Linked DNA regions of Homo sapiens. The protein of the gene in region 4 interacts with the protein of the main gene of each other region in a pairwise test. Each region holds a gene or a part of one and is shown on either strand. Other genes may lie near its edges. The genes, in order: UBE2Q2, DTX3L, CFAP418, RNF111, PHF7 and LRSAM1.

Region 1 (3,500 bases), about 17 Mb from region 4:
AGCATGTTAGCTACTCTTCATTTCATCATATAACTATTACTATGGTATAAATGTATACACTAAATAGCCAACGAAAGCTAGAAATTTTGCTCTTAAAACATGGAACAACTAAGCTATATAGTAAATATTACACTACTGCAGCTGAGTATCTTATGCCCTTAACAGATAATTACAGCCATCAACTGAGAAGATTCTTTAATGAGTTGAAAAACTGCTTACCGTTTAGTCTGACTGAAAAAAAGATTATGCAAAATCATATGTACTTAAGACTTTTCTTCCATGAACACACATTTCTACAAAGATGGAATCCTTCTACGTATGTTGTTTTATAATCTCTCTTCAACTTTCAGGGACATCTTTCCAAGTTAGTATACATAAACCTATTCACAATCTTTTTAATGACTCTGTGGTAGTTTATTTTATGGATATGCTTTAACAAATTCCACCCAGTATCTGTTTTTTTTTTTCTATATAAACAATGCTGAAACAAATGATTATTTAACATTTAAAAATAAAACCAGTATTCAAATGTTTGTACTTTATTAGGTTTCTACAGATAAACTTTTAGACTTCTTACACAAAAAACCGTAAGGACACCCACAATTCTAACAACTCAGAAACAAGTTTGGCTTATCCTGCACACTACAAAGCAAGGATTTTTTCCTTGTTTTTATTCTTTAAGCAAATTCTAATTAATTTTGATTTGCTCACGCTAAGAATTCCTGAATCGGTCATAATGCTAGAATTGAATCGGTCATAACCCTTTTTTTTTTTTTTTTTTTTTTTTGACAGAGTCTCACTCTTGCTGCCCAGGCTGGAGTGCGGTGGTGCAATCTTGGCTCACTACAGCCTCTGCCTCCTGGGTTCAGGTGATTCTCCTGCCTCAGACCACTGAGTAGCTCGGATCACCAGGCGTGCGCCACCACACCCGGCTAATTTTTTATTTTTAGTAGAGATGGGGCTTCGCTCGCCATGTTGGCCAGGCTGGTCTTGAACTCTTGACCTCAGGTGAGCTGACCACCTTGGCCTCCCAAAGTGCAGGGATTATAAGTGTGAGCCACCGCACCCAACCAATGCTATCTTTTCAAATTAAAGTTTGGCTCATTATTTAATACTATTAGAATCTCCATAACAATATGAGAATTTTACCTCTAGTTAGAGAGGTTCCATAACATTCAAGTCATATTGAGTAAGAATACTCGTCAAACAAGGAAATGAAAACTTTAAAAACTTATATATTTTAAAGGTAATAACATAACTATCTTTACAATAAAAGCTGATTATCTTGCTTTCAAAAATGGGGGGGAATCATAAAAATCAACTTGGCAATTATTCTCTGTAAAATGAAATGTTTTACTCTTATTTACTTTCCAAGCAATATCGCTCATGCTTTCCCCAGAAGATAAAAATCATGTAAGAGTTCACTGTTTATCAAGAAGAGGACAAAATTCCAATGGACCTATAAAAACATTTTTTAAAAATCCAAAAGACAAGTAAACTCATCCTATTTTACTCCTACATCTTTTGGAACTTGATTGCATTTGAGTTTCACATTCCTGAAATAAAGCTAGTAAACATTTCCATTTCTGTCCAGTTTTAAGAAATGACATTTATAATCTGACAATAGAAAAGAGCAGAAGAATCATAAAGAGAGCAGGGATCCAGAGATCCTTACCTGTTTTATAACTCTGTGATCTGTATATGTCCCTGAGCTCTTTCATAAGTCTATCTGAAGCTTGCACTGACCCAGACACTGCACCCTGAAACACAAAAGCCACTGTTTACCAGGGTCTGCTGAGCTAAGATTTAAGATATTTCAACCTGATCTAAAAGATTACAGCAAAAATGGATCACCACTCAACATTTTTTTTTTTTTTTTTTGGAGATGGAGTCTAGCCCTGTTACCCAGGCTGGAGTGCAGTGGCGCAATCTCAGTTCACTGCAACCTCCGCCTCCCTGCTCAAGAGATTCTCCTGCCTCAGCCTCCCAAGTAGCTGAGACTACAGGTGCGCACCACCACGCCCAGCTAAATTTTGTATTTTTTTTTTTGGTAGAGACGGGATTTCACCATGTTGGCCAGGATGGTCTCAATCTCTTGACCTCGTGGTCTGCCTGCCTCGGCCTCCCAAAGTGCTGGGATTACAGGCATGAGCCACTGTGCCCAACCTCAACATTTTAAGAAGTAAAAAAAAGCCCAATTAAATGAAGCATTATGAAGTTTCAAGAGGATATTAAAACTAGGCACAAGTCTAGTTCATTTCCTATTTCTTCTCATGTGAAAAAGTCTAGCCAACATGTCCAGACCACCATGGATTCCACAATAACAAAGAATTCAGTATGAGTCTATTCCAAACCCCAGCAATTTTTGAAAATACTAGAAGACACTCAAGGTGACACATTATTTACTAAAATAGAGTTCCATTCATAAGACTACAAACAAGAATATTACACAGATGGTCTAGTTCGCACATTAAGACACTGAGAAACATCTGCCTACATGCGACTGGTTTCAGTTTTTCAGTGCAGGGACATCTCTAAAGATGAAAACACATCAATATCTTATCATAAGACTAAATACAAACGGAACTATTTTTTGGTCACGTGAAATTAAAGATTTTAAACATTGCACTATACTTTGAAGGGGGGAAAAATCAAGTTTCCTAGCTCATTTCATATCTACAAAATATGAGAAGTTTTTCCTATCTCTAAAATATGAAGCATACCTATTTCACACGGTGGCTATGAAGACTAAATGTGAAGATATGTGAAGTATAAAGTACTTGGCATAGTATCCATCATGCAAAAGTGTTCAGTAACTTATAGTTGTTTTGACTATAACTCAAACTGGAATCGATCACAAGACATAAAGTACAGTCATCATTAATTCAAATGACAAACTTTGTTTTTTAAGTAATCAAGATATGGGGGCTTGACTAAATTTCTTTGCTCTACTAAAAATTATAAATTAGATTAATATATAAATTAGACTGAAGGAGGGAGAGTAATCTACCTGTTTTCAACATTTGGCATCTACTTACCTAACAATTCATTCCCTGTTTTGGGGAACCTGTGCCCAAGACAAAGTAACTGCTACTCAGATTTCACGGAGTTGGTCAATAGCTCTAACACAAGGCAAAAAGTAGTAAGTGTTCAGACAATCATTTGATGTTTCCCTACTCTGAGCATTTTATATATATACACACATCATTTTCATTTATTTTTGATAGCAATCATCCAAAAGGTATGTACTGTCTAGCCATATTTTAGAGCTGAGGAAAGTGAAACCATAAATTGTGTGTTTGTCACCAGACTCAGTGTTCTTTTCACATCCTGCTGCTTCACGTAAAAGAGATATTAAGTTGTGGCCGGACACAGTGGCTCACACCTGTAATCCCAGCACTTCGGGAGGCCAAGGCAGGTGGATCACTTGAAGTCGGGAGTTCAAGACCAGCCTGGCCAACATGGTGAAACCCTGTCTCTACTAAAAATACAAAAATTAG
Region 2 (3,500 bases), on a different chromosome or scaffold from region 4:
ATATATTCCTTATAGTAGGCTTATTTCACCTTTTTTCTGTCCAGAGAGAGTATCAGTGAGAAAGATTTTAAGGGTGAAAACATGAATTGGTGGGACTTAGTAAAGAGCTGAAAAACTACTACAATGTGGGCTACGGTTATTATAAAATGATAGAGATGGAAACTAGAGTAAGTTTATTTTGTCTGTTAAACCTGGAAGTGAGCTAGGCATGGTCACTCACGCCTGTAATCCCAACACTTTGGGAGCCCAAGACAGGAGGATCCCTTGAGTCCAGGAGTTCAAGACCAGTCTGGGCAACACAGGGACACCCCATCTCGACCAAAAAAAAAAAAAAAAGCCAGGCATGGTGGTGCACTTCTGTGGTCCCAGCCACTTGAGAGGCTGAGGTGGGAGGATCACTTGGCCCCAGGAGGTTGAGGCTGCAGTGAGTCGTCATTGTGCCACTGCACTCCAGCCTGGGGGACACAGTGAGACCCTGTCTCAAAACAACAACAACAAAAACAAAGCAAAACAAAACAAAAAACACTTGGAAGTGGGGTATACTCAAAAATATAAAATTATCTAGAGAAAAACAATGCTCAGAAATATATAGCATTACTGTGGCAGGGCAAGTGCACCCAATATGGCAGTTTACAAGGAGCAGAAAGCAAAGGCTCAAGTGAGGGGCCTGGTCAGAGTTCAGGCTCCAAGTGTTCTAGAATAAGAAACTCAAGTCAGGCACCGTGGCACATGCCTATAATCCCATCTACTCGAGAGGCCAAGGTTGGGGGATGGCTTGAGCCCAGGAGTTCAAGTCCAGTCTTGATGTCTTCCCTTGAGAGACAGGGCAATATAGTAAGGACTTGTCTCTTAAGGGAAAAAGCAATGAAAGAAAGAAGCTCAGTTTTCCAAATTAGTAGCAAGGACTCCAGAAATGGCTTCCTTACTCCTGCCTCTGCCAAAGATTTAGGAGGCAAATATCCCTCTGCTGGCTTACTAGCAACCTGAGTCAGGCAAACAATTTTATGAAACACTGCTACAGTTTAGTTTGTTTGACCTCCTCCAAATCTCATGTTGAAATTTGATCCTCAGTGTTGGAGGTGAAGCCTAACGGGAGGGGTCTGGGTCATGGGGGCAGATTCCCCCATGAATGGCTTGGTGCTGTTCTCATGGGAGTGACTCACTCTTAGTTCCTGAAGAACTGCTTGTTAAAAAGAGCCTGGCACCTCCCCGACACCTCTCTCTCTCACTTCCTCTCTGTCATTTGATTTCTGCACACACTGGCTGCCCTTTGCTATGAATGGAAGCAGCCTGAGGCTTTCACCGGATGCCCAACCTTCTAGCCAGCAAAATTGTGAGCCAAACAAACCTTTTTCTTTATCAATTACCCAGTCTCAGGTGTTCTTTTATAGCAACACAAACAGACTAAGACAGGCACCAACTATATACTAGGCTCTTGGTCATTAAAAATGATAGTCTTGTGTGGGTGTGGTGGCTCATGCCTGTAATTCCAGCACTTTGGGAGGCCAAGGCAGGAGGATCATTTGAGCTCAGGAGTTTGAAACCAGCCTGGCCAACATGGCAAAACCCCGTCTCTACTAAAAATACAAAAAATTAGCCGGGTGTGGAGGCACACACCTGTAATCCCAGCTACTCAGGAGGCTGAGGCAGGAGAATCGCTTGAACCCGGGAAGTGGAGGTTGCAGTGAGCCAAGATCACACCACTGCATTCCAGCCTGGGTGACAGAGTGAGACTCCATCTCAAATAATAATAATAATAGTCTTATTCCATTTATTACCAATGCTTGCCCAATCTCTACTCATGGCCACTTTTCTTACCATGAGTAAGAAAGCAGAATGTGGGTCTTTAATTTTTCACAACCAACCCTTTTTCCTCCCATTTACAATAGAATTTCACTTTCACAGGTAGAGATGAAGGGGAAAACACACAAAAAACCAAAGAACCACCCCAGAGATGGCAATGAAAAAGAGATCAATTGGCAGCCGAGAGTCCAACTGAAGGACACAGAAGATTATTTCGGACCCACCTCTAACCCCAGTGATGACACAAGAGGGATGACACCTTTGCAGCAGATTTTACACAGATTTGGGGGGCTTTTGTCTTCCATAAAAAGTATCACTCCAGGGCTGGGCGCGGTGGCTCACGCCTATAATCCCAACACTTTGGAAGGCTGAGGCGGGCGGATCACGAGGTCAGGAGATCGAGACCATCCTGGCTAACACAGTGAAACCCTGTCTCTACTAAAAATACAAAAACAAAAATTAGCCGGGCATGGTGGTGGGCGCCTGTAGTCCCAGCTACTCGGGAGGCTGAGGTAGGAGAATGGCATGAACCTGGGAGGCGGAGCTTGCAGTGAGCCGAGATCATGCCACTGCACTCCAGCGCGAGCGACAGAGCAGACTCCGTCTCAAAAAAAAAAGTATCACTCCAGAAATGACAGACTAGCAGATTGTTATTCTTATACAAACCATTTCTTGAGAAGAAAAATTTCAAAGTCCTTTCTACATAAGGATTTAGACTGGCATTAAATCAGCCTCCTAAAATATATTTTTTTGAAAGCTTGATTTAAGACATCTTCCAGCAGTTGTCTTACTCAATTCCTTTGGCTTTCAGCTCCTCTTTGACACGTTTCAGGTAAGAAGGATCAGGATAGCCATACCTGAAGAAACAAAAATTCCTTTAGTGTCACCACAAATTGTTCGGATATGTGCAATAGATATCCAGCATTTAAGGATTTAATTAATATCCAGTGTTGCAAACATTCACAAGTAATCCTGAAGGTGGATGACGTATCATGACTTTTAAATTCGCAGATGCGAGTCATTTCGCTAGCGAGTGAGCCTAGCTGTCTGGCCAGCATCTGCCTTTCAAGCTGGCTTCTACCCTGCCAACTACAAAGTATTAATATGATGTATTTATTACATTTCGCATCAAAGGGCAGGGGGTTTGAGAATCCAAGATGAATAGTAATACGTTGATTTACTTTGAGGCTTCATGTCTATGTTAATTCTTAAAATTTTTCAGTTTATGGTAAGTAGTGACTCTCCTAAAAATATAATAATATACTGTGTTTTAGGGGGGCATCGTAATCACATGCTAGTAGGATTTTCAAATTTAAGGTTTTGGAAAAGTCTCAGGGTATATATTTTTTCTTTAGTGCCAAGGGTCTGAGGAATCCTATTTGGGTTTCATAAAGAACAATTGGATTTCGTATAATACAGTTTCTACCAATAGTCTCCTCACAACTTAGACTTTTTCTAGAATATTATTGGCCAAGTGATTTCAGGTTCTCTGTGGACTGGTGGGGGAAGGGGTGAAAAAGAAAGGTGACCTTAAAAGGAAGCAAAGTGACATTCCGAGCATCTAGCCTTCAGATAGACACAACGCCTCAAATTAAATCAGCTTATATAGTATTCATCTCGGATTCAAAAGCCCCCTGTCCTTTGGTGCAAAATTTAAATAACTCCATAGTACTTTATAGCTGGCAGGGTAGAAGTTG
Region 3 (3,500 bases), on a different chromosome or scaffold from region 4:
AACACATATTAACCACCTGATAGGTCCTAAGGATTAAATGAACAAATTTTGATGAACAAATAAATGGACACTTCCTGTCTTCAATGAGCTTTCAGTCTAGATGAGGAGATGGGCTTTAAATAGATTATTCCACAAATAAGTATTTATTTTCCATTTGATATGTGACATAAAGGGAACATATGGGATACTATAAGCATAGATAATGGACACTCTAACTAATATGAAGGGTCAGGGAATACTTCTCTGAGCAGATAATCAAACCACAATATGAAAAATGAGTAGGAGTTAGACAAAGAGAGGTGACCATTGGAGCCAGAGCACACGCATGTTTAGAAGCTCCCTGAGAAGGGGAGGAGCTGGGGGTGTTCCTCTGGTGGAAGGAACAGAGAGTATCTGGCCATGCTGGAGCATAATGAGTAGGGAAAGAATGGCCACTGACTGGGCTGGAGAGAGAGTGGAGGGACATTTGGCTTAGGGTCCTGTAATCCTTTTGAGGATTTTGGAAAAAGTTTGTCCTGTGTTCAATGGGCCAGATTTGTGTTTCTTAAAAAAGTCATGTTGGCTGCTGTGCAGAAAATGGCTTGGGAGTTGGAGGGGCAAGACAGGAAAGGACACAGGAAGACTAGTCAATGGGCAGTAGTTAGAGTGGTCCAGGAAAGAGAAGATGGGAGCTGTGACCTGCGTGGTAGCAATGGCTATAGGGAAAAGGTCAAATTTGAAATATTTAGAATATAGAATTGACAGAATTCAGTGATTGACTAAGGAGGGTAAGAAAGAAAGTTGTTAAGAATGACTCCCAAATAAGGTGCCTTGCTCAAGGTCATATCAGTTATTGCAAAGCAAGGATCCAGATTGGTTACTTGATTCCTAATCCATTATGCTTTCTATTATACCACTTAGCAGAAAGCCATGTAATATGGGAAGAATCTTAGCTGATGTTGCTGTTGGAACTGCTGTTATCTTCAAACTATCCAGACATCAAGTTTCTTTAGTCCCATTGTGCAGATCTGATAGGATTTAACAGAGAACCACAGTGTCTGGGCAGAAGATTGTATTGGGTTGGATTTGGGGCATTCCTGTCGTAAACATCTTTAAAATAGTGAATTCTACTTTTTAGCTGGACAAAAGAACAAAGCTCTTGGTGACATCTTATGTGTGATTCCCTCTACATTTTAGAGGGAAAGACCTGACAGTTTGTCTTTCACTGGAGTCATGACTTTATATTAGATATGCTTTTATGTACATAGTTATGAAAGAGAAATATATTTCAGCCCTGAAAAGAGTACTGATTTACATGGCCAGGGCATAAAGGAAATTGAATCTATCCTGCCTATTTGCGTTGTTTGATTTCTAGATACAGCTCTGGCTTGAGGTAATGCTGAATGACTTTAGATTTTAGAAAAAGATTTGTCTTTCACTTGTTGGTGGAAAAGGGGAGAGAATAGTAGTAGGAAGCATGGTGGCAGTAATAAGTACTACAGATAAAACGAAGGCATTTTCAAGCCAATCGAATTTTACTCTCAATTATTTTTTAAACAACTTGCAAGACTGGATTATTCCATAGACTGGTACTAATTATGATCTAATAGAGTAAATCGTAGCAGTGGAATGATTTCTTAGCTGCAAGTTAGTTTTATGTTTCTCAAAGGACAGTGTTTGTAGGAAAATGTGGTGGTGTGAATAGATTTGAATAAACTACTAAATTTTAAATTAAATTAAAAAGCTGTATTTAGCATTATGGTTGAGATTTTACACATACAAAATGTCAGGAAATTCTAAATTATAGTTCCCACAACAGCAATAATTCAGCCAAATTGCACATATGTATTAAGGCATTAAAGTTAACACTCTGTGCAATCATGTAATAAACTATATATGCATAAGAAAGCAGGTCATAGTAGCTTTGGGAACTATCAATTTGCATTTCCTGACTTGTACATTCGAAGTCTGAGTTCAAATGTGTACAAATGTAGTTGTTGAATTTCCAAATGTAGAAATGCAACTTCATAAATTGCTAACAGTTTGAAAGAAAATATGGACTTGCCTATGAAACTTGTATAGGTTTTAAATGTTTCATTATTATTATGGTTAATAGTATTTTTAGAAATACAAAGCATTTATTCTCAAAGAAATTTTCAGGCCAAAAGTATTTGCATTTTGAAATTAGCGTATCTGAACTTTGAAGGGAAATAAATGAAAAAAATCTAATGATGAGTTTATTTTTTCATTACAGAAGTATTATGTGCTTAATGAAAGAATAAAAACAAAATTGAAACATGTATAAAGAAAAAGATAATAATCTCCCTTCCTTCCCTTCAACCACTCCTGATGCAACCAGGGTTACTGTGTAGTATATAACTTTCTACATTTTGCTCCATGTTCTTTTTTTTTTGAGACAGAGTCTCGCTTTGTCGCCCAGGCTGGAGTGCAGTGGCGCGATCTCCCCTCACTGCAATCTCCGCCTCCCGGGTTCACGCCATTCTCCTGCCTCAGCCTCCTGAGTAGCTGGGACTACAGGCGCCCGCCACCATGCCCAGCTAATTTTTTTGTATTTTTAGTAGAGATGGGGTTTCACTGTGTTAGCCAGGATGGTCTCGATCTCCTGACCTCGTGATCCGCCCGCCTCAGCCTCCCAAAGGGCTGGGATTACAGGCGTGAGCCACCGCGCCCGGCCATTTTGCTCCATGTTCTTATAAACTTCTAGCCACCTATATAGGAATTTTTTGTGGGGGTCGTTTTTACAAAAATAGGATCATGCTATATATGTTAGTGTGCACCTTGCTTCAGATATCCCTCCAGGTTAGTATATAGTCTAGTTATCATGAGCATTGTTTGTTTCTTCTCTCACTGCAATCAAAGCTCTATGAAGACAGAATCTCATTAGCACATACCAGACTCTCAATAAATATTTTTTGAGTGAATGAATGCATTATGCCAAGTTGTGAGGAAGCAAACAAATACAATCTTTTCCCAGCGCTTAAGCAGCTTATCTGAAAAACAGATTCATTTCAATGTCATGTGACATATTCTTCGGTAGAGATATTCCTGAAAATTTCAGTAGGAAGGGGAGCATTTAAAGAAGTTAGCTTATATGACGATCTCCCTCAGACGTAATTTGAAAACCATGGAATTAAAAGATCTACAAATCTATTTTCTTTCATATCTATATAATATATGTGTAAGTTCAGTGTACAAGATCATAGTAAAATAGGTAGGTTTGTGCAAAAATTTAACCTTAAGGTTTAGACCGTAAATAATGCTTTAGTATAAAGATTTATAATCAGATTAATCTGTACTTTTCTGTTGTTTATTCAGTAATCTGTAATATGTGGTGTATCCTATAAATAAATCACCATGTTTTCATTGGTATTTAAAGATACCAATAATCTTTAATATACAATTTTTTTTCTCTGAACAGAGCATGTGACCATCTGCGTTGTATAGCCTGTGATTTCTTGGTAGTCAGCTATGATGACTATATGTGGGACAAATCGTGTGAT
Region 4 (3,500 bases):
CAGCTTTGAACTCCTGGGCTCAAATTATCCTCCTGCCTTAGCCTCCTGAGCAACTGGGGATTACGGGAATGAGCCTCACCCAGCTTATAGTTACAAGTTACATTATTTCTAAAGACTTCATGGTTTTTTTTGTTGTTGTTGCTGTTCTTTGTTCTTTTTTTAAAAAAAGAAAACAACAACAACAAAAAACAGTATTTCACTGTGTTGCCCAGATGGACTCAAACTCCTGGGCTCAAGCAATCCTCCTGTCTCAGCCTCCCAAGGAGCTGTGACTACAAGTGCATGCCACCATGCCTAGTTGGATTTCAGAGTTGTAAAGACCAATGGAAGTAGAAGAAAAAGCAAACTTGACTTTCTTTTTAAAAACGTAAAACATACGTTGGATGCTGCATCATCCTCCTCCTTTGAACTTCCATCCTCTGCATCACTTCATGAGGATGCAGTCTCTGTGCTGGAGGTGCTGTGGCTGGAATATGGTGCGAAATTGGCTGGTGTGTAGGAGGAAGATGCTGAGGGATTGGTGCAGCTGTACTGGCTAAGTGAGTTGGTGGTGGGGGTGCCACAGGATGAGATGTTGCATGAGAAGATATTTGAGAATGGAAAGCATGTACAGGATGAGGAATAACATAATCCACTTGAGGCGGAGGCTGAGTCTGAGGAGGGGGGTTTCCATGAGAATGCGGGCAGGCAGAAGCTTGATGATGAAGTGGCCTTGTCAAAGAGGCATCTGCAAGAAAAATATTTTGAGTATGTTACATAGGCACCATGCAGTTGAACATATATTGCTATTATACATTCCTAGTGTACTTTTAAACATATTAGTATTTTATTTTTATGAATACTTTATCAAGTAAAGTATTCAAGCAACTGCTCAAGCAACTTGCTCCCTTCTTACAATAATCTTGGATATCTTATGTCAATATATATATTATAGTTTAACTTCACTCACAGCTTCACAACATTCTATTATATGAACACACCAAAATGTACTGACAAAATCCCCACTGATAAAAAAGAAACCCAAATGCTATGATAAATATCTGTGTATATGCTCACTCCTGCACTCACTCTTTCATTTACACACATGTATACACACATATATAGAGATCATTTCTGTAGCATAAATTCCTGTAAGTAGTTGTGGGACAGAAAGAAAAAAATAAATTTAGATGCCAGTTAATAAAAATACCCTTTCCAAAAGGTTGCCATAATTAATATTTCCATCAAGAGTACACAGGAAGGGCCAGGCACCGTGGCTCACACCTGTAATCCCAGCACTTTAGGAGGCCAAGGTGGGCAGAGTCACCTGAAGCCAGGAGTTCGAGACCAGCCTGGCCAACATGGCGAAGCCCCGTCTCCACTAAAAATACAAAAATTATCCAGGCATGGTGATGCACACCTGTAATCCCAGCTACTAGGGAGGCTGAGGCAGGAGAATCGCTTGAACCTGGGAGGTGGAGGATGCAGTGAGCTGAGATCATGCCACTGCACCCCAGCCTGGGCGACAGAGTGAGACTCCACCTCAAAAAAAAAAAAAAAAAAAAAAAAGGAGCACACAAGAAGGCCTGATTACCCCCACATTACCACTAAATTTTTAAAATAAATGCCAATCTGAGAAAAATCTTTTATTTCTTGACCGCTTGTATGTGTTCTCAGAATTATCTATTTACATGCTTAGCCTATTGTATTACTCACCTTTTTCTTATTGACTTGTAAGTATTATTTGCATATATGGAAGCTCTGTCATAATAGGGTGTAAACATTTTTCCAAACTGTCTCTCTCTCTCCCTACCCCATGTCATTATTCCTGTGCTACATTAAGGTGAAGGAGACCTATTTGTTTCCCATCAAATATGGACGTAAAGTCCTTAATAAGATGGCTCCTACCATTTCTTCATTCTACATCTTTATGTTTCAAAGTGACTGCTGAAAAATCTCTCTGAGGAATACACATCTTCCTTACTCTTAGAGATGTGCATCTACTTGACATGTAAAAAAAAAAAAAAAGTTTGTCTTAGATTTCAATACAAATTTCATTTTATTGGAAGATGTTCTTGGAAGTCTGATATAGACCAACAGCCATTCTCTAGTTTCATTACAGAAGTTTTCAATTTTTAATGCTTTTGATTCATTCAGCAAGGGCAGAAGTTAGGTAACAATAACTCAACTATATTTTCAAAGTATGCCTTGTTAGCATGTACTTAAAGGAAACTTTCAACAAATCTAATTTTTAAAAGTTGCAAGACAAATTTTTAAACCAATTTTCTAAAAGTTCTGTTTTCAAATCAATGCTTTACTCTTCAAGAAGGCACAAAGCTCAGTAGCTAGCTCTTAATCATAAAAAATGAATCCACTATGTTTTATGATTGTTAACTATCCTTTCTCAAATTCACAGCATTTTTTCTAGTTGCAAAGTTTTATATTTGTGTAATCATTATACAACATTCACAAATATTACAAAGCAAGAAGTTTTGTTTCAGAATGAGTCCATTTATTTAACTACTCTTTAGACATCACTTTAATTCACTGTTTAAACAAAACAGGTTGCTGACCATTTTAAGAGTGACATATTCCACATTCCCAAAAACCCTTTCCCTTCCTCTATTTGTGTTCCCAACAGTTAAAAAAAGTTCTTGATATTGTTTCCTAGACGTTCAACATATCACTTGCAGATGTAATACTATGCTTTATTCCAACATTTACTCACTGCATTCCCATAGCTTTACAGTGTAGACCATTTGCTTTATGATTAATCGTAAGTAGCCTTACCTATACCTCTCTTTTTTTTTTTTTTTTCTTCTTTTGAGAGGGAGACTCGCTCTATCGCCCAGGCTGGAGTGCAGTGGTGTGATCTCAGCTCACTGCAATCTCCATCTCCCAGGTTCAAGCAATTCTCCTGCCTCAGCCTCCCGAGTAGCTGCGATTACAGGCACCTGCCACCACACCCGGCTAGTTTTTGAATTTTTAGTAGAGACAGGGTTTCGCCATGTTGGCCAGGCTGGTCTTGAACTCCTGACCTCAGGTGATCCACCCGCCTCGGCCTCCCGAAAGTGCTGGGATTACAGGCGTGAGCCACTGTGCCTGGTCTTTTTTTTTTTTTTTTTTTTTTTAGAGACAGGTTCTCACTATGTTGTCCAGGCAGGAGTACAAGGATTGTTCACAGGTGTGATAACAGCACACTACAACCTTGAACTCCTGAGCTCAAGCAATCCCCATGCCTCAGCCTCCTGAAGAGCAGGAACTACATGCTCATACTACCAAGCCAGGCCTTACATATCTTCTCAATACATCTTATTAATAAGATAGTAAAACTTTTAAATAATAGCATTTCAAGTACAGTTGTTTTATCACTTCATCAAGACCACAAACCTTTCAAAAGCAGAGAGAGACATATTCTTACTCCACAAGTATTGTTGTTATACATATAAATGTACTTATGAAACAGCAAACTATTCATCTGGATCCAAGTATCACAATTTATAGCCAATAGGAATTATTCC
Region 5 (3,500 bases), on a different chromosome or scaffold from region 4:
CCCCGTCTCTACTAAAAATATAGAAATTAGCTGGGCGTGGTGACAGGCGCCTGTAATCCCAGCTCCTCGGGAGGCTGAGGCAGGAGAATTGCTTGAACCCAGGAGGCAGAGGTTGCAGTAAGCTGAGATCGCACCACTGCCCTCCAGCCTGGGCAACAGAGCAAGACTCTGTCTCAAAAACATATATATGTGAAATATGAAAAGAAGCTGATGTCTTAGGCTTTAGATATGTTGGTCCTTCATCAGACCCATGAATGGCATTTTAAGAGAAATGTTAAAAAGGTTATCAACAAGATCCCCAAAGAACACCTTGTGCTTCTTATTTCTCTTGTATAGAAAATCTGCCAAGACTAGGAGGGTAACCCAGAGGAAACCGTCTTCAGGGCCTGGTAAGAAAGACTGGAGCTTGTGTTCGCCCACTGCCTCCAGCCCTCAGCAAAGAAGGCCACCTGTGTGGGGCAGTATACTTGCTTCTTCTCTCTCTCCCAGCCCTACTTCCTTCCTAGATTCTCTAAGATCTTGAGGACTCAGGAACTGCCATTTTAAATTACCATGTCTGAAGTTCAAGAAACAAGTTATTAAAGTCACTTTAGAACAAAACAAAACCAAAAAAAAATGAAGTGAGCAGTTGTGGCCAACTTTTTCATTGTAACCAGAATTATGTGACAGACTAATTGATACCACATAAGACCTCATCCCAACCTTCCTCCTTGCCAAAATGACCCTTTTCCTAGTATTCTACTCCTTCCTGACTTAGAGGAATGGTTACATTCTCACCCTTCTCTTCCATTCTTAATGGTCAATTTGAGCCAAATTCTGGGTGTCCTCTCTTCCAGTTTGCTGGCTATGCCTTCGAGAACCTGGGGATCCCGAAAAATTAGGGGAATTTCTTCAGAAAGACAATATCAGCGTGCATTATTTCTGTCTTGTGAGTATGAGGCCTCCTTTGCTTTGAATATCCTATGGCTTTTGGTGTACTGACTGTTCTCTGTTACATTCATCCTCATATCCACAGCCTTGTTTTTTTATTTTTCTTAATAGCTTTTTTGTTTTAAAATCTATTTTTAGGCTGGGTGCAGTGGCTCACGCCTGTAATCCCAGCACTCTGGGAGGCCGAGGCAGGAGGATCTCTTGAACCCAGGAGTTCAAGACCAGCCTGGGCAACCTTGTCTCTACAAAAAAATTAAAAAAAAAAAAAAAAAAGCTGGGTATAGTGACAAATGCCACTCCGGAGGCTAAGGCAAGAGGATCGCTTGAACCCTGGAGGTGGAGGCTGCAGTGAGCAGTGATCACACCACCACACTCCAGCCTGGGTGACAGAGGAAGACCTTGCCTCAAAAAAAGAAAAATATATGTGTCTGGTATAAAATCTTGACAGTATAAAGTAAGTTCAGTAAAAAAGTCTCTTCCCTAAACAATGTTCCCAATCCTTCTCCCTCTCCCCAGAAACAAATGCTGTCAAAGTTGTAACATCCTTCCAATTGCTTTTTCCCAGTATTTTTTTATTAGGTATAACTTTCATACTGTAAAAATCACCAATTTTTTTCTTTTTTTGAGAACGGAGTCTCACTCTCTTGCCCAGGCTAGAGTGCAGTGGCGTGATCCCGGCTCACTGCAACCTCTGCCTCCCTGGTTCAAGTGATTCTCCTGCCTCAGCCTCCCAAGTAGCTGGGATTACAGACACCTACCACCATGCCTGGCTAATTTTGTATTTTTAGTAGAGACAGGTTTCACCGTGTTAGCCAGGCTGGTCTTGAACAAAATTCACTAATTTTAAGGGTCCAGTTTGATAAGTTTTGATAAATGTATGTCCCCAAATAACCACCACCCCAATCAAAATAGGTAATATTTTCATCACCCCAGAAAGTTCCCTCCTGCCTCCTTTTCCAGTCAATCCCACTAGACGTAATCACTGTTCTGATCTATGGATTATTTTTGGCTATTCTTTTACTTCATATAAGTGAAATCATATAGTTTATAATCTTCTGTATCTGGCTTTTTTCTCCCAACACAGTGTTTTGGAGATTCATCCATGTTGTTGCATGCATTCATAGCTTGTGCCTTTTTATTACTTGGTAGTATTCGGTTGCATGAATAAGTTACTATTTGCTTATCTGTTCACCTGTTGATGAACATCTGAATTGTTTCCATTTGAGGACTATTATGAATAAAGCTACTTTAAGCATTCATGTACAAGTCTCTTTGTGAACATGTGCTTTCACTTCTCTTGTGCAGATGCCTAGAAGTGGAATTACTAGTTGTATGCTAATTAGATATTTAACTTTATGTGAGGTTGCCACATCACTGTCCAAAGCGGTTGTACCAGCTTACACTCCTACCAGCAATTTATAAGAAGTCCAGTTGCACAGTATTCTTGCCGGAACTTTGTTTTGTCAGTGTTCTTAATTTTAGCCATTCTACTGGGTGTGTATTGGTATTTCATTGTCGTTTTAATTTCCATTTTTCTGATGACTAAAGCTTCTTTTCATGTGCATATTGGCCATTCACATATTTTCTTTGGTTTTTTGGTTTTTTTTTTTTTTTGAGATGGAGTCTCGCTCTGTCGCCCAGGCTGGAGTGCAGTGGTATGATCTTGGCTCACTGCAGCCTCCACCTCCCGGGTTGGAGCAATTCTCCTGCATCAGCCTCCCAAGTAGCTGGGACTACAGGTGCCTGTCACCACGCATGGCTAATTTTTATATTTTTAGTAGAGACAGGGTTTCACCGTGTTAGCCAGGATGGTCTCGATCTCTTGACCTCGTGATCTGCCCACCTCGGCCTCCCAAAGTGCTGGGATTACAGGCGTGAGCCACCGCGCCTGGCCCGGCCCACATATTTTCGTTTGTTAAGTATCTGTACAAATATTTTTACCCATTTAAAAACACTGAGTGGTGGTCGGGCACAGTGGCTCACGCCTGTAATCCCAGAACTTTGGGAGGCCGAGGCGAGCAGATCAAGAGGTCAGGAGATGGAGACCATCCTGGCTAACACGGTGAAACCCTGTGTCTACTAAAAATAAAAAAATTAGCCGGGCATGGTGGCAGGCGCCTGTAGTCCCAGCTACTCGGGAGGCTGAGGCAGGAGAATGGCGTGAACCCAGGAAGTGGAGCTTGCAGTGAGCCGAGATCACGCCACTGCACTCCAGCCTGGGCGACAGTGCAAGACTCCGTCTCAAAAAAAAAAAAAAAAAATTGAGTGGTTTTATTATTGAGTTGTAGGAATTGCTTATATATTTCAGATACAAATTCTTTTTCAAATATATGTATTGAGACTATTTTCTTCCTAGTCTTTGGCTTGCCTTTTCATTTTCTTAATGGTGTCTTTCAAAGAACAAGTTTGTAATTGTAATGGAGCCCAGTTTATCCATTTTTTTCTTTTATGGTCAGTGCTTTTTGTGTGTTGCAAGAAATCTTTACCTACCCATAGAATTGCCTTGGTGCCTTTGTCAAAATCAATTGACCATATATCTGTGGATCTGGATAATCTATTTATGTCATTGA
Region 6 (3,500 bases), on a different chromosome or scaffold from region 4:
AGGAGCCAGGTGAGCGCTGGGGCTGGGGTCCCTGGACCTGCTCTCTCAGAGACTTGCAGAGTGGCCCTCCAGGGCGGCAGGTCGCAGCAGTTGAGGTTTGAACCCCAGCTCCTTGGCTTGCTAGCCCAACAAGAGGTCGAGGCCTTGCCCTCAGAACCTCCCTTTGCTCCCAGCCTTGTGTCGGGGCTGCTGGGAGGGTGTCTAGAGACCTCCTATTCCGGGGTCTGGCGAGGGTCTTGCCAGCGAGGCGGGTCTCCACCACGCCTGGGCCAGGGAGGCTGGTGCTGATGTGTGGCTTTGACTGCTCCAGCTGCCTCTGCTGTCCCTGCTCCAGGCAGGACTTCCCCACTGGGAAAAGCAGCCGGCGCAGGCCCCAGCGCTCCTACAGCTCAGACAGACAGAGGCGTCTCAGGGGCATATAGTATTTCCCCCAGAAGAGGGCAGGGGGAGCTGTGAGCCACGGTGGTCCTGACGCCTGCTGAAAAGTGACCTCGGCCCAGGAGGAGGCGGTCCTCCTCTTAGACCCTCCCTCATGTGACAAGATACCCCCCACCCCCCGCAGGCCGGCTGCTGACCTTCAAGCCTTGGGCAAGCCCACCTACACGGCTTGGTGGTCACCGCCTGTGGAGTGGGGCTGGGGCTGGGGCTGAAGTGAGCGTCAGGCTATGGGAGTACTCCTGCATCATGTTCAGCACACTGAATTTTGCATTTTTGCATGGTTTTTTTCTTTCTCTATTTTTCTTTCTTTCTTTCTTTCTTTCTTTCTTTTTTTGGACCAATTTACCTTTTTAATTTCCCTCTTTAATTTCAATTCCACATTGCCGGACATGAAGCTCATTCCTCTGACCAGGGGTTGGTGGTGTCATAGGGACTTAGGGATGAGGGTCACAGGGTCATGGGCACAGGATAGAGAAGTACTGGCTATGGGGTCTGACCCCCACCCCTGCCCAGGGCTAAAATCCCCTAGACACACCCTGGAGAGCCTGTGAGGGCCCCCCACATTCTCACTGCAGATGGTTTTGACCAGGTCAGCTATTGCCCTTAAACCCTGAGCTGAGGCATCCCAGAGAAAGGGATCTCTCCCTTACCTGCTCTGTGTCCTTGAGCAAGTGAGAACCTCTCTGAGCCTCAGTTTTCTTGTCTATAAAATGGAGGCAATAATACCTCCTAGCAGCCAGAGAATTGATGAAATATGATACATCAAGTGTGCAGCACAGGCCTAGCACATAGTAGGTGCTCAAGACATACCAGCTACTACTACCACTGTTACTCAGTCACTTCCACTACCCTCTGCTCTCCCCTGCAACAGCGATGCGAGGGACAAGAGAACTTGACCAGCAGGAGACTGGGTGATAGCTCTGTCTGTGCTTTACTCTGGCCTGAATCCCCAAGGAAAGCCCCCTCTCCATTGCACAAGCCTTTATCCTGATCCCACTCTAGGAGAGATCCTGTGCTGGCCTCTTGGTAAACAATTTTGGCCACAACAAGCACGTCCATGCCCCAGGAACGCGAGGCCATGAAGGAACGAATTCTTGTTCAAGCCCCTTGACGAGGTTCCCAGGCCCGCAGGTTCCCCTCATTCCAGAGCCTCCCCAGCCTCCCCAGAAAGGCTTCTTAGACCCACTTGGTCACCAGAGAGTAGCAGCACAAAACTGAACTGTGGTTAATGTGAGTAAAAAAAAACCCTGTCTCGTCTTCTGTTTAGATTAAGTTAATAGAAACTGAGTTATTGCAGCTGACACAGCTGGAGTTAAAGAGGAAGTCCCTGGACACAGAGTCACTCCAGGTATGTAGGGCTCCCTGCCCCTGCCCTCCTTCACGTGGTGAGACCCCCACCTGGTGCTCCCTCCCAGCCTCTGGCAGCTGCTCACCAGCCCCTGGGAGTCAAGGGCTTCCCCAGCAGACAGAGGGCAGAGCTCCTCTGTGGCTGTGACACCAGAGGACACCCCCCAGCCCCAGAAGGCCCAGCGCAGGCCAAGGTTAGAGGTGGTCAGCCTGTTGCGAGGCAGGAGGGTCAGAGGAAGGAGGGTTTCATTGCCAAGGCTCCCCTGCTCATCTCCATCACTGTGTCTCCTGTGCTGGGTGCGGGCCCGCCGCTGAGCTCCTGTCTCTCTCTGTAGGCCGTGCTTTAGGCCCCCAGGCACACATCCTCCAGGGCTGGAGCTTTTGGGTGTCCCGGGTTGTCTGGAGGAGAGGGCCCAGCCGCATCTGTGTAACTCCCTGCAGGCAGCATCTCTGGGGCTCCAGCCCGGGAGTCCTGCGCACACAGATGAGAGGGCAGCAGGGACTGGCAGCTGGCGTCCTGGACTGGATGCCTGGGAGCCGGGTGTGGCCCAGCACAGCCCTGCTGTGCAACTTTGGCAGGTGGGGGAGGAGAGGCAGCCCTTTCCCCTCTCTGAACCTCAGCCTCTCCAGCTGCAGACGGAGGGCTGGATGGGATGGTGTGTGAGGACATGTGCCTGTGCCAGGAGTTTGAGCAGAGCCTTCGGTCTGTCACTGTCCCTGTGTCTGTTCTCAGTGGAGAAGTCTCAAGCCATCCCATGGACTCCTCAGTGCAGTGAAGGGTCTGGGATCTGGATCCCTGGTCTCAGGTGCACCGCAGGTGTGCTGTGTGCCCTTAGACAGGCCTCTGCCCCTCCAGGCCTTCTTCCCCTACTCCATAAGATGGCAGCGGTCCTCCAGGCCCAGCCTGTGCCATCAGGCCATCGGAGAAGGCTGAGCTAGCAAGGGAAAGCCCTTTGTGAGCCTTGAAATGATCTCCAGAGATGAGGGGACTGGGACTGCTCTCAGAGAAGCTGCGGTCATCATGCCTGGCGGGTGCCCTAGTCCCTGCCCACAAGTGTGGCAGGGCTCTGGCTGTTGGGGCCCCCATGGGGTTTCCAAGAGCAGGCGCAGGAGTGAAGCAGGGACCCCAGGCTCTGGTTTGCACGCACCTCCATTTGTGTGGGGCCCCACACTGCTCCCCGCCATTTGCTTCTGCCCATGTGCTCTGTTGTCTGGGAGACCAAAGGCAGGCACCTGTGGCTTGTCATTTCTTTTGTTTGATGTTTCTTACCATCCCATTGTCATCAGTCACCAGGATCCCATGCCTGACTTAACCCCACAAGGAAGAGAGATGCGGGCTTAGGGTAAGGGGGCAGAAGGGCCTCTTAGCTTTGTCCCCCAACGCAGCCTGGAGGCATTGGGCAGAGAACCGAGTGAGCGGGAGGCCAGGCCCTTCTCCATCCTGCCACTGCGGGACTCCTGCGCTGCCGCCAGCTCACGGTGGTGCGGGGTGTGGTCTTGTTCGCAGGAGATGATCTCGGAGCAGCGCTGGGCCCTCAGCTCCCTGCTCCAGCAGCTGCTCAAAGAGAAGCAGCAGCGAGAGGAAGAGCTCCGGGAAATCCTGGTATGTGTTTGGCTTCTGTGCTCAGCATCACACAGGCATTTGCTTTTCTTTAACAGACTTGCCATTTTTAGAAACACCTGTTATTCAAGTAAGAGTTATTCATCAAAGAAAA

Evidence for each region.
Region 1: the proteins of RNF111 (region 4) and UBE2Q2 interact in a two-hybrid assay, tested with the Homo sapiens proteins (one large-scale study listed by BioGRID and IntAct).
Region 2: the proteins of RNF111 (region 4) and DTX3L interact in a two-hybrid assay, tested with the Homo sapiens proteins (one large-scale study listed by BioGRID and IntAct).
Region 3: the proteins of RNF111 (region 4) and CFAP418 interact in a two-hybrid assay, tested with the Homo sapiens proteins (one study listed by IntAct).
Region 5: the proteins of RNF111 (region 4) and PHF7 interact in a two-hybrid assay, tested with the Homo sapiens proteins (one large-scale study listed by BioGRID and IntAct).
Region 6: the proteins of RNF111 (region 4) and LRSAM1 interact in a two-hybrid assay, tested with the Homo sapiens proteins (one large-scale study listed by BioGRID and IntAct).

What each region holds. Positions count from the first base shown.
Region 1 is NC_000015.10:75,874,447-75,877,946, reverse strand, and holds part of UBE2Q2 (ubiquitin-conjugating enzyme E2 Q2), read right to left. Parts: intron 3,123-3,500; coding exon of another isoform or gene 3,114-3,122; exon of another isoform or gene 3,039-3,113; intron 1,761-3,038; coding exon 1,676-1,760; intron 1-1,675.
Region 2 is NC_000003.12:122,570,838-122,574,337, reverse strand, and holds part of DTX3L (E3 ubiquitin-protein ligase DTX3L), read right to left. Parts: intron 2,661-3,500; coding exon 2,591-2,660; 3' UTR 1-2,590.
Region 3 is NC_000008.11:95,252,202-95,255,701, reverse strand, and holds part of CFAP418 (cilia- and flagella-associated protein 418), read left to right. Parts: intron 1-3,418; coding exon 3,419-3,500. UniProt on the Homo sapiens protein: May be involved in photoreceptor outer segment disk morphogenesis.
Region 4 is NC_000015.10:59,078,163-59,081,662, reverse strand, and holds part of RNF111 (E3 ubiquitin-protein ligase Arkadia), read right to left. Parts: intron 728-3,500; coding exon 379-727; intron 1-378. UniProt on the Homo sapiens protein: E3 ubiquitin-protein ligase. Required for mesoderm patterning during embryonic development. Acts as an enhancer of the transcriptional responses of the SMAD2/SMAD3 effectors, which are activated downstream of BMP.
Region 5 is NC_000003.12:52,413,660-52,417,159, forward strand, and holds part of PHF7 (E3 ubiquitin-protein ligase PHF7), read left to right. Parts: intron 1-336; coding exon 337-389; intron 390-836; coding exon 837-928; intron 929-3,500.
Region 6 is NC_000009.12:127,489,510-127,493,009, forward strand, and holds part of LRSAM1 (E3 ubiquitin-protein ligase LRSAM1), read left to right. Parts: coding exon 1-9; intron 10-1,705; coding exon 1,706-1,786; intron 1,787-3,292; coding exon 3,293-3,388; intron 3,389-3,500.